Regions from separate parts of the Homo sapiens genome. Here region 2 is linked to region 1. The links come from fine-mapping of genetic effects on gene expression. A gene starts in region 1. The other region holds a variant in brackets. All regions are shown on one strand. Distances are between the middles of the regions.

Region 1 (5,387 bases):
AGGGTTTCAATGATATTAATAACAAGAGCTAACTTCTGGGTAAAGGGGACACAATTGAGATTTGAGAGTCTGGATTATAGATAGTACATTCTGATATTATTAGTAGCTTAGCTGTTTCAACTGGCTGAAATGAGTCAAGATATTGACATGAAATTACTCACTGTAAGCGTTTATTGAGCACCTTCTTTGTGAAAGATTTAATTCTGTAAAGATTCTCTAATTGTTAGATTTCTAAGTCTCAAGGGAAGAGATAGTGAATATGTGTCAAAGTTTTATTTAACGCAAGAAATGTAGACCTGCCAAGTGAGAACAGAGACTATTCAGAGCTTGCTATAGCAATAGGGGCAGCGACCACACTTGAGTTTGGCAGAGACTCAAAAGCAATCGGGAAGAGGGGAGACTTTACAGTGGAGGAAAAAAGGGATGCTTCTGATGTGTTCTGATTTAGGGATGTTGGCAGGGGAAGCTGGAAGTTGTCTAACTTGAAGCAGGAAACTTAACAGGATTGGTTTGGGAAGAATATTTGGCTTTCTCTGGCTGATACTGGTGTCTGAGGACAGAGAGGTTAAAATAGAAAAGTTGGCAGCCTTCTTGAGAAAATTCTGACCATTTTGAGCTGATTGCTGTAGAGGTTATGGTTTGGCTTATGTGAGTTAGAGTGTTATTATCATATGCGGTTTAGCCATTGTCCATATGTATAAGTCTCTCACTCATTAATAAGGGAGCCAGCAGAATCATAAAACGGATTTCTACCAGTTCTGAAAAATGATATTTATATAATCGTTGGGGAAAGGAATGCTGAAATAAAACTGCTCAGTTGATACAAAACCGGTTAATTTTTCTCAGAAAAATGCAACCTTAACCTTTGGAATTTTATCTATCTATCTATCTATCTATCTATCTATCTATCTATCTATCTATCTATATACACACTGAATTCCCTGCCCCTTTTTCCCCTAACACCTCATCAGTTTCCTACCAATTGATGTTTGATTTCATCCTTTTGTAAATCTTCTGGGCCCTAATCAATTGTTATTCAAACAAAGTTACATTTCCTGTGGGTGTCAGATGATCAAGTAGGCTTATTACAAAATTCTCTAGAATGAAACTAATAAAAGTCACAAAATATTATCTTTTGACTTTTTTCCAAGTTTTGAATAAAATTTTAGGTATTTTCTCACTTAATTTTCACCACAGTCCAATGCAAGTAACTCATTGTAGTAGTACAATGATTATCCCCATTTCCCCGATGAGAAAACTGAGCCACAGTTTCAGTAACTTGAAGAGTAACCAGTAATTCAACGACAGCCACAGAATGGCTGAGCACTGGCTGTACTGCCGCTTTAGGTTATAAGAGTGAGGGAAGGCCTGCCACGCTGCAGGTTTCGGGCAATGAAATTATTTTTTCCACTGCTTTATTTCCACCCATTTATCTGGCTTCTAAATCCAAAATCCTTTTCTAAGACAGTTCACAGGGGTGGAGGGAAGAGGCTGGGCTGTGCTCCACATCAGGCTGCCTTTGCTAGCTGTGTTGTCTTGAGCAAGTCATTTATTAATTAGCTTCCTGGCCCTCTGTTCTTCGCTTGTAAAAGAGCTGGAACCGCGTTCTCGGTGTGCAGGTGCTGGTGTGTGGCGCTGGGGTAAACTCACAAAATAACCGTTGAGGCCGGGCGCGGTGGCTCACGCCTGTAATCCCAGCACTTTGGGAAGACGAGGCGGGCAAATCGCTTGAATTCAGGAGTTCGAGACCAGCCTGGGCAACATTGTGAGACCCTATTAATACAAACAACAACAACAATAATAACCAAAAATAGTCCGTCGTGGTGGCACTCGCCTGTGATCCCAGCTACTCCGGAGGCTGAGGTGGGAGAATGGCTTGAGCCCAGGAGCGGAGGTTGCAGTGAGCCGAGATCGCGCCACTGCCCTCCAGCCTGGGTGACCGAGTGAGATCACGTCTCTAATAAGAAAAAGACAAAAAACACAAAGTAACCATTGAAAGATAGCGTCGTCGGCTGGGTTCACCACATCCCAGCGCACGCCGGAGCAGGCTGTAGCAGTTTTAATAAAGTGTCTATAAAGAAAGCTGCCTTCCATCTTCAGTGGCGCCGCCTCCCACTTCAGTCCCCTTCTCGGCCCCACCCCAGCCCTTCCCTCGTTGTCATGGAGGCCCCAGGACGCCAGAGCGGGATAGTTCCGCTCCCGCGGCACCAGAGGCGGGGCACGCAATGACGCATGCGCTCGCTTGGCTGCCCTGGCGCCGCGGTGGCTGCCGGGACTGAGCTCCTAGCACCCGATCGGGAAGTGGCGGGCGGAGTCCCGGGTCCAGTCGCCGCCTCAGCTACCGCCGCTGCCGCCGCCGCCGCCGCCACCGCCAGTGGTGAGACCCCGACCTGGCGGGTCAGCGCTGGGCGTGCGTGCGGGCAGGCGGGGGCGCTGACGAGAAGCAGGAAGAGGGTGCAGTGCCGGCGTGGGCGGCCGGCCGAGGCGGAGGCGCAGGAAGGGGGCGGCGAGTCGTGCGAGGCTGCCCTTCTCACTCAGGTAGGGGCTGCGGCCGCCGGGTGTGGGGCGCAGAGCCCCGGCTTGCTGTTCCCTGGGACGCAGGCGCGCCGCCGCCTCCCGGGAGGCTGAGCGTGACCTCCACCTCACGGGAAGCTGGGACCGCCGTTCTCGAAGCGAAACACCCAGCACGCGAACCGTTCCCCGGAGCATTGTCTTTAGGCCAGAGGTTCATTGAGCAAACTTTTGGGTTGGAAAGAGGGAAAATTCGCGGTCTGCCGCCTGACTGTGCCTCTTCCAAGCCTCCAAGTTCACGGGCGCGGTAGCCAAGCGAACCGTGTGTGGAGTTTGAGCAGCCGCGGGGTCCAGCCAGCTCAAGACTGTGATTTAAAATGATGCTCATACGCGGACTGCTTTCTAGGCTACCTTTTGGAGATTTGGTTTGTGATGATCCCTAAACTTTAACGATAGTAGTTGATTTCTGCAGTCTAAACAACGCTGCGGCCCCCTTTTCGCCCACCTCCCCACTTCCGTCATTTAAGGGCGAAGCAGCCTGCTTTTCATAGCCGGGTCCTGAGGTGCCAGGGACACTAACGAGGCTGGGTAAAAGTGAAAGAGAGGGGAAGTAGTAAGGTTGAAAGAGGTCGAATGGTGGCAAGAATCGTGGGCTTGGAGGCAGATTTCAGTTTAATTTTTGGGTTTTCCGTGTCTGCCCACGGAGGAACCAGCCAACTCCTTGAGTTGTGGTTTTGTTTAATTGTAAAATGGACATGGTGATGTAGCCTGTTTACTCCATAGGGGGGTCCAGAGATCTAAAACTTAGTACACATATTGGGTAGTCTTTGAAAAAGGAGGAAAAGTTAGGCGGAGCACGTGATGGTGAAAGACAGACATTGCGAAGCTTTCTGCTCTAGATGCCTTTGAACGTTCCCGAACCTCACAGGTGGCCTTTGTTTTAAAGGCCTTTACCAGCGTTCCAGGTCTGGTGTAAGGAGCACTTGAGTTAGGAGTCAGGAGGTTTGGTTCCTGGCCCTGGCTCTTCCATCTGTGCGACCTTAACCAGACAGCTTCACTTCAGATTTCACGTATTAAAATAGGAATAACACTAATACCTGTTTGCTCCTAGAGTTGCGAGGGTCAAATACTGTAAGCATTTAGTTTGTTGTAAACTGTACGGCTTTATTTACTTTTTTTTTTTTTTTTTTCTGAGACGGAGTCTCGCACTGTCGCCCGGGCTGGAGTGCAGTGGCGCGATCTTGGCTTACTGCAAGCTCCACGTCCCTGGTTCAAGCGATTCTCCTGCCTCAGCCTCCCAAGTAGTTGGGATTACAGGCACCCGCAACGACACCCTGCACATTTTTTAAATTTTTAATGGAGACGGAGTTTCACCATGTTGGCCAGACTCGTCTAGAACTCCTGACCTCGTGATCCGCCCTCCTCGGCCTCCCAAAGTGCTGGGATTACAGGCGTGAGCCGCTGCGCCCGGCCTATTTAAATCTTTTAGAGTAATTTTTTTAAAGTCCAGATTGAGGTCCTGCCTTTGCAACGTGAAATAAGACACAAATGTTTCCTGTTCTAGAAATTTACTTTTTGCTCCCACCTTCTCACTTGACAATTCTCCTTTCTTCTTCTTGGCCCCACGCTTTCCCTCCTCCCAAGGCTGTCTCCTACTTTCCTCAGCCCGGTAAATCATTCCCTTCTTTCAGATCCAACTCAAAATAGTAATACTGAAATAACACGTTTTTATGACTTTACTGTTTAAAAAATAACATACACATTTTCTCATTCTTACAATTGGGCTGGATGTGGACAGCTTTCATAGCGTCCTCATTTCACTTATGAAATTGAATGTAGAGGCCTTGTGGGTTGCCTAGCCAGGTGGCTTTAGGAATTGAAACTGAGGCCGGGTGCGGTGACTCACGCCTGTAATCTAAGCACTTTGGGAGGCTGAGGTGGGCGGATCACTTGAGGTCAGGAGTTCAAGATCAGCTTGGCCAACATGGTGAATGAACCCCGTCTCTACTAAAAATACAGACATTGGCGGGGCGTGGTGCTGCGCGCCTGTAGTCCCAGCTACTCGGGAGGCTGAGCCAGGAGAATCGCTTGAGCCCAGGAGGCGGAGGTTGCATTGAGCCGAGATTGCACCACTGCACTCTGCCAGCCTGGGCGGCAGAGCGAGACTCTGTCTCAAAAAAAAAGAAAAAAAAATTGAAACTGAGAGAAGGCAGGTTTTTGATTCACCGTCCAGTGATTGTTCACGCCTTAATTGAAATTCAGTCTGATTATTTCTTATCAATGCTTATATTTAAAATTTTTAGCTCAATGCTTCCATTTTCTCAAATCTAAGCAGCATGTAGACAAGGATTTATCTTCCGTAACCTTTCAAAGCTTAGAGCACAGTGCCTCACAAACAAGATATTTAATAAAGGCTTGTGAAACCAGTAATAATGGGACCAGAGCAATTTAAAGATGATGTTCCATGTGTTGTTCATTTAACAAATATTTATTGAGCTATCTGTGCTTAAAAGCTTTCAAAGTATGAGTCTTTTTCCTCCCAGCTGACACTAGTCTTAACAGTGTCAAATTCATTTATATAGTCAGCTTGAGGTCTTCATAGACCCTCTGTAGGGTTCTAGCAGAGTTCAGAAGAGAGGTGTGTTTAGAATTCTTGTTGGTTGACCTGTAGCTTCCCTGGTTGTAGTGAAATTGCTTTGAGTTGTAATTTTAGAACTAGACAAACAACAACCACAACATAGAAGTTGCCTCAAACCACCTCCCTCCAAATTGGAAATTTTCTGTAGACTTTTTTTTTTTTTTTGAGACAGAGTTTTGCTGTATCCCCCAGGCTGGAGGGCAGTGGCGGGATCTCAGCTTACTGCAACCTCTGCTGG
Region 2 (5,387 bases), 21 kb after region 1:
TTACAGCAACCTTTGGGTTTTGCAGGGGATACTTTGCTCAGGCTAGCTGAATGCCGACTAAGAAAAGGAATAGAAATTATGAAGAAAAAAAAAACAAAAACCCTTTAAAGATTAAATAAACTTACCAGCAAGGTAAAAGGACAGAAGCTGGCTCTTTAGGTCCGATATAGTATATAGATGGAGTTCTAACATCTAGTAAATAACTAAATTTTCATGCTTGAATAGTATAAAATTAGAAATTTGGTCAGCAGTTAATATTAATTTTTAATAGACATGAATGATTGCTCTGAGCCACGAAGATAATCTTGTTACCTAGAAAGGTACTTACTCTCCTTTCTTAACCAGTTCTTCTTAGGACATATTTTTATTTTAAAATGCAGTTTATCAAAAGGACTTACTTTGTATTTATTTTGAGGATCAGTTTAAGAATGACTTCAACATTATATTTAAATGGTGTGATAAATTGATATCAAAAATGAAAGGCTATTTAAGAAGGTTTTTGTTTAATAGCATGACTTTATATTACGAGAGAGAAATTTCACAGTGAAGAAATACTTTAATTAAATGTTAAGGAAGTCTGAAGCTGTATAAATTATCTGTTCAGTGTAGTATAATGCAGCCCATATAGTGATACCTTTTATGATCTTTTATATAAAAATTAAAATTGTGATAATTTCTTGGCATTCTCTGCATCTACATTCAAAGCAAAATAAAAATAATTTTGAACTATTTTCTCATATTCTAAAAAATATAACAAACTTTCTTATAAGTAACTATTTTTTAGCAGCCAATATCATTTGCACATAGAATCAGAAAGCTTTAGTCTGGAATTCGCTTTTGATCTGGGTTTTTCTTTAAGAAAAATCCTTTGTTAAGACAGACCAAACTGCAGAAATGAAATCGCTCAGAGAAAATGAAATTAGCAAGTAACCAGTTAAAATAAAAAGCTATGGTTTACTCTGAGGTCTGGATATAGATCAGGTTCATGTAAAATGTAATGAATTTTCCATTAAGGCACAGATGGTAAGGGTGCTTATCAAATAGCACAAGGCAGTCTTCATATTTTCATAATAAAATCCTACCAAGCGGTGAAACGAATACATTGCTTTTTCTTGATATTTAGTAGGAGCAAAGCTTTCTGGTTGATTTTTCAGGGTAAAATATTTTCCTATTGCATCATAAGGACATGTACCACTAAATAAAAAAGATCATATAAACCTACCTCTTGTCTGAGAGGATGCTGCTGAAGCGATGGTATCGTCTGTTTGTAATGCAGTCTAGTGCACAGCCAAGATGGAGCTGTGCTTCTATTGGTTGAACCACAATGGAGCTGACAGTTTCCTCTATGTTCATTTGCATTAAGTCTTGCCACCCTTAAGAGTAAATCATTCATAAACTTGAATAGAGCTGTCTGGGGTATCAACTGTCATCCCTTCTCCTTTATTTTTTTGTTCTTAAGCTAAATTCCTATATAGGAATTTGTGAGTTACTAACAAATTGATGATTCTTTAGTGTTTCATTATAAAATTTCAGATCCTTCAGTGAATACTTCAGTGCTAGGGCTGGAAGATAATGTCGGGAAAGGTAGTAACCTAGGAAACAAACAGTCCAGGTTTGCCAGCCTGATATTTCCTTCAGGAAGTGTGCATAAAATCTTATAAATTTTTCTTGTTCTTCCTTTTCTTTCATTACTTGTTCCGTATATAATTTTTGCACTCTGGAAGTGATTATTTCCATGTGGTGGTTTGATTTAGGAGGAATTATGAAGGAAAATAATTGGCTTTTAGCTCTGCAAGTTGGAAGAGGGCTCATTTAGGTAAATACACTACCTGCATTCAAAAAATAGTCTCTAAAATGTAAATGGCAAAGTGATCTCCAGGTTGGCTCTTTAGAGACAGAGTATTTTTAGTTACTGTGTATTATTTAGAGTTATGGTCTAAGCACAACAGAATGAAGGTTTTTAATTATGGGAGTGGCTGTTAACAACAGCAGCAGACCAGGTACATGCTATGTAGACTTCTTTTTTAAAATTATAGATGAAGGCTGGGAGCGGTGGCCCATGCCTGTAATCCCAGCACTTTGAGAGGCTGAGTTGGGTGGATCACAGGGTCAGGAGTTCAAGACCAGCCTGGCCAAGATGGTGAAACCCCATCTCTACTAAAGTACAAAAATTAGCCAGGCACGGTGGCAGTCTCCTGTAATCCCAGCTATTCAGGAGGTTGAGGCAGGAGAATTGCTTGAACCCGAATGGCAGAGGTTGCAGTGAGTTGAGATCACA[C/T]CACTGCTCTCCAGCCTGGGCGACAGAGTGAGACTCCATCTCAAATAAAATAAAATAAAATAAATAAAATAAAATTATAGATGAATTGGTACATTAGTTTCTGGGGCCATAAAGGAATGCATAGAAATATCTGTATTATAGTCATTCATTCAACAAATATTTATTGAGTGTTTACTAAGCTTGACATTGAGTTAGTAGTAGATGCCAGAGACATAAGCATCATGTCTCATAAGCACAACTGTTTGTGATTCATAATTGGCCATTTGTGTGGTGTTTGTCCTTAACACATTGTCATCTCTTTTTTCATAGTCTTCCCAGTTGTTTATACAGTTGCGTGGGGTAAGCTTAATATTATTTTACTTAAACAAGCATTAAATGTGCAGTCACAGATTTCTGTACTTTGACAAAATGGCCAGTTTCAGATGGAATAATCTGTGTAAAGGCTGTTTATTACAGGGTTTACACTGGATTTGAATCTATACTCTGCTGCTTACTACCCTCAATTTTATTATATTTAAAAGGGGACAGTAATACTTCTTAAGTTGGATTTTTTGGGAGGGATTACGTATGAATATTTACCATAGTGTTTAGCAGATAATAAATATTGGTTACTTTTATTACAGATGTGCTGAACACCTTGGGAGAATGAACTACGTAGGTAATATTTCATAATTGAAACAGTGAATGGAAAAGCACCTATAAGGCATTCTTTTTTTTTTTTTTTTTAATTTTGAGACGGAGTCTCACTCTGTTGCCAGGCTGGAGTGCAGTGGCACTATCTCGGCTCACTGCAACCTCCAACTCTCTCGTTCAAGTGATTCTCCCAAGTAGCTGAGACTACAGGCACGTGCCATTATGCCCAGCTAATTTTTGTATTTTTGGTAGAGACGGGGTTTCACCATGTTGGCCAGGATGGTCTCGATTTCCTGACCTCATGATCTGCCCACCTGGGCTTCCCAACTGTAAGGCATTCTTAATGTTATTGTTACTTTTGGAAACATGGTAGACTTCAGTGTGCCAATTAATTAAGATTGTAACAAAGTTAGTTTTAAAGGAAAATTGCATATGAAGTTTCATTTTAGTCTCAAAAAAGGATACTCAATAAAGACTTCACTAATCTCAAAGGAGTATGGTATTGCCATCTAGAAGCTGTTCTTTTGGATCTCTGACAGTTGTTACATTTGACTTGTGGTTGTTCTAATGCAATCTTTTGTTTAAATTATTATTACCAACCTGGTGCCAGAGATTGGTTCTCCTCTCCCCTTTTACTTAACCTCTCTCTTTGTGGATCAGCCACATGGGAACTTTATAATATCTGATCTCATGCCTTGCTAATAGAATGTGTACTTCTAAAATGTTTTTCTAGTATTTATGATGGATTTTTTACTGTTCCTGGTTATGACTAATGGAATGCATTTGTGATGCAGTGGTGACATTAGGGTTTCTGCTTGTAAGAATGCAACAAAATGATAGATATTTTGAAACAAATGATCTTTTGTACAGGGTTTTCCACACCAGATAGAGAAGGAGAGGGGGGTGTTTCTCAAAGTGGGTGGGTAGTGCTGTGATGCTTTTTAAAGTAAGCATCCATGTTCATGCAGTGGCAGTGCCTGTGGCTTTTTATTCCTAATTTATCTGTAAAGTTTACTTTAAAATAATTGTGATATCTTTTTTCTATTAGTTTCCATTAATTCCTATTTTTTTGGTCTTAAATTGGTAAGCAGAAATTGATGTAAAAAGTGGTATATTGAACTTTTCTTCCCTCAGAAGTAATCCACTCCTTGTGTTAGCTTTATGGATGGGATTGAGGTTTGTATTGTTTCCTTGTTTAATAAAGTGTACTTCTGATTATGGAGCGAGTCTAATCAGAGTTAAGATAAGAATGAGATAAAGGAGAAAGGGGCCTGGTGCAGTAGCTCACACCTGTAACCCCAGCACTTTGGGAGGCTGAGATGGGTGAATCTCTTGAGTCCAGGAGTTTGAGACCAGCCTGGGCAACATGGCGAAACCCCATCTCTACAAAAAATAAAAAAATTAGCCAGGCATGGTGGTGTGCACCTGTAGTCCCAGCCTCTCAGAAGGCTGAGGTGGGAGAATCACCTGAGCCTGGGAAGTTGAGGGTGTAGTGAGCTGTGATTGTGCCATTGAACTTCAGCCTGGGCAATGGGAATGCGACCCTGTCTCAAAAAATATAATAAAAAATAATGTGATAAAGATATTTATAAAAGAATTGTGGTTTGGTGTTTTAAGTTATTTATACTTTGTTTCTACCCTTAGTGAGAAAATTGGTACTTTAATGTATATACTCAAAGATTGTGTATTTTTCACCAGAATATTACAGGGTAGAATATACTAGATGAAAAACTCAAGAAATATGTTACCAGCATTAAAATTATTTTAGCTGCTCAAGAGTCATAATCACACATAATATGACGATGTTATTTTGAACTTCATTTGCAGATCATAGCAATGGATCATTTAACTTGAAAGCTTTGTCAGGAAGCTCTGGATATAAGTTTGGTGTTCTTGCTAAGATTGTGAATTACATGAAGGTAAGTACTTTTCTCAGATAGCAAAAGTCCTATTTAACTTTTTGGCAAAAGAAGGAGATTAGGGTTTTCAGAAGTTAAATTTCTGTATACATCAAAATTTATCAAAATTGTGCATTTTCAGTATGTGCAGTTTATTGTATGCCAATTATACCTCAAGCCTTTTACATTGTATTAATTTGGCATTGTGGCGAGTTACCAAAGCATATTTAATCTGCATTAACTCAAGGGTACAGTTTAAGCTCACCATTTCACTTAATAAGAGTGTGCCTAGGCAGTAGGTATATCACCTCTTAATGAATACAGGCTGGCAAAACCAATGGGAGGATGTGATTGATTTTTCAGGTTATTACTTCCATTGATGTGAGAAGTAAAAAGTACATAGTTCAGGCAGATGATGGTGATGGCTTCTCTGCATCTTGGAGGAGAAAATTAGACATTTACTGAGAGTCTTAGAAAAACATTGACTCACAAAAGAATTAGAATTTAATGTTTGATGGAAGGTTTAGTATTTTTTGAATACAAAGTTTTGATCATATAAGATTTTGGCTTTACTTTGA

Which allele goes with the higher level. Alleles are on the strand shown, and positions count from the first base shown. SD is a standard deviation of normalised expression in the study named.
For the expression in spinal cord of the gene that starts at base 2,275 in region 1, T is the high allele of the variant in region 2 and C is the other (moderate effect, 0.49 SD a copy in GTEx).

The links. PIP is the estimated chance that this variant, and not a neighbour inherited with it, causes the effect. A credible set is the group of variants that fine-mapping cannot tell apart.
Region 2: its variant is the best candidate, but not a certain one, in a credible set for the expression of GTF2E2 in spinal cord (GTEx, PIP 0.64).

What each region holds. Positions count from the first base shown.
Region 1 is chr8:30,655,124-30,660,510 of GRCh38, reverse strand. GTF2E2 (general transcription factor IIE subunit 2) reads left to right here and starts at 2,275. Exons shown (of 8, transcript NM_002095.6): 1 at 2,275-2,538. RefSeq lists enhancers at 1,732-2,403, 3,075-3,746 and silencers at 2,181-2,590, 2,601-2,690.
Region 2 is chr8:30,634,475-30,639,861 of GRCh38, reverse strand. GTF2E2 (general transcription factor IIE subunit 2) reads left to right here. Exons shown (of 8, transcript NM_002095.6): 3 at 4,739-4,830. SMIM18 (small integral membrane protein 18) reads right to left here and starts at 1,282. Exons shown (of 3, transcript NM_001206847.2): 1 at 1,223-1,282. The variant C/T (reference allele first, on the strand shown) is at 2,279.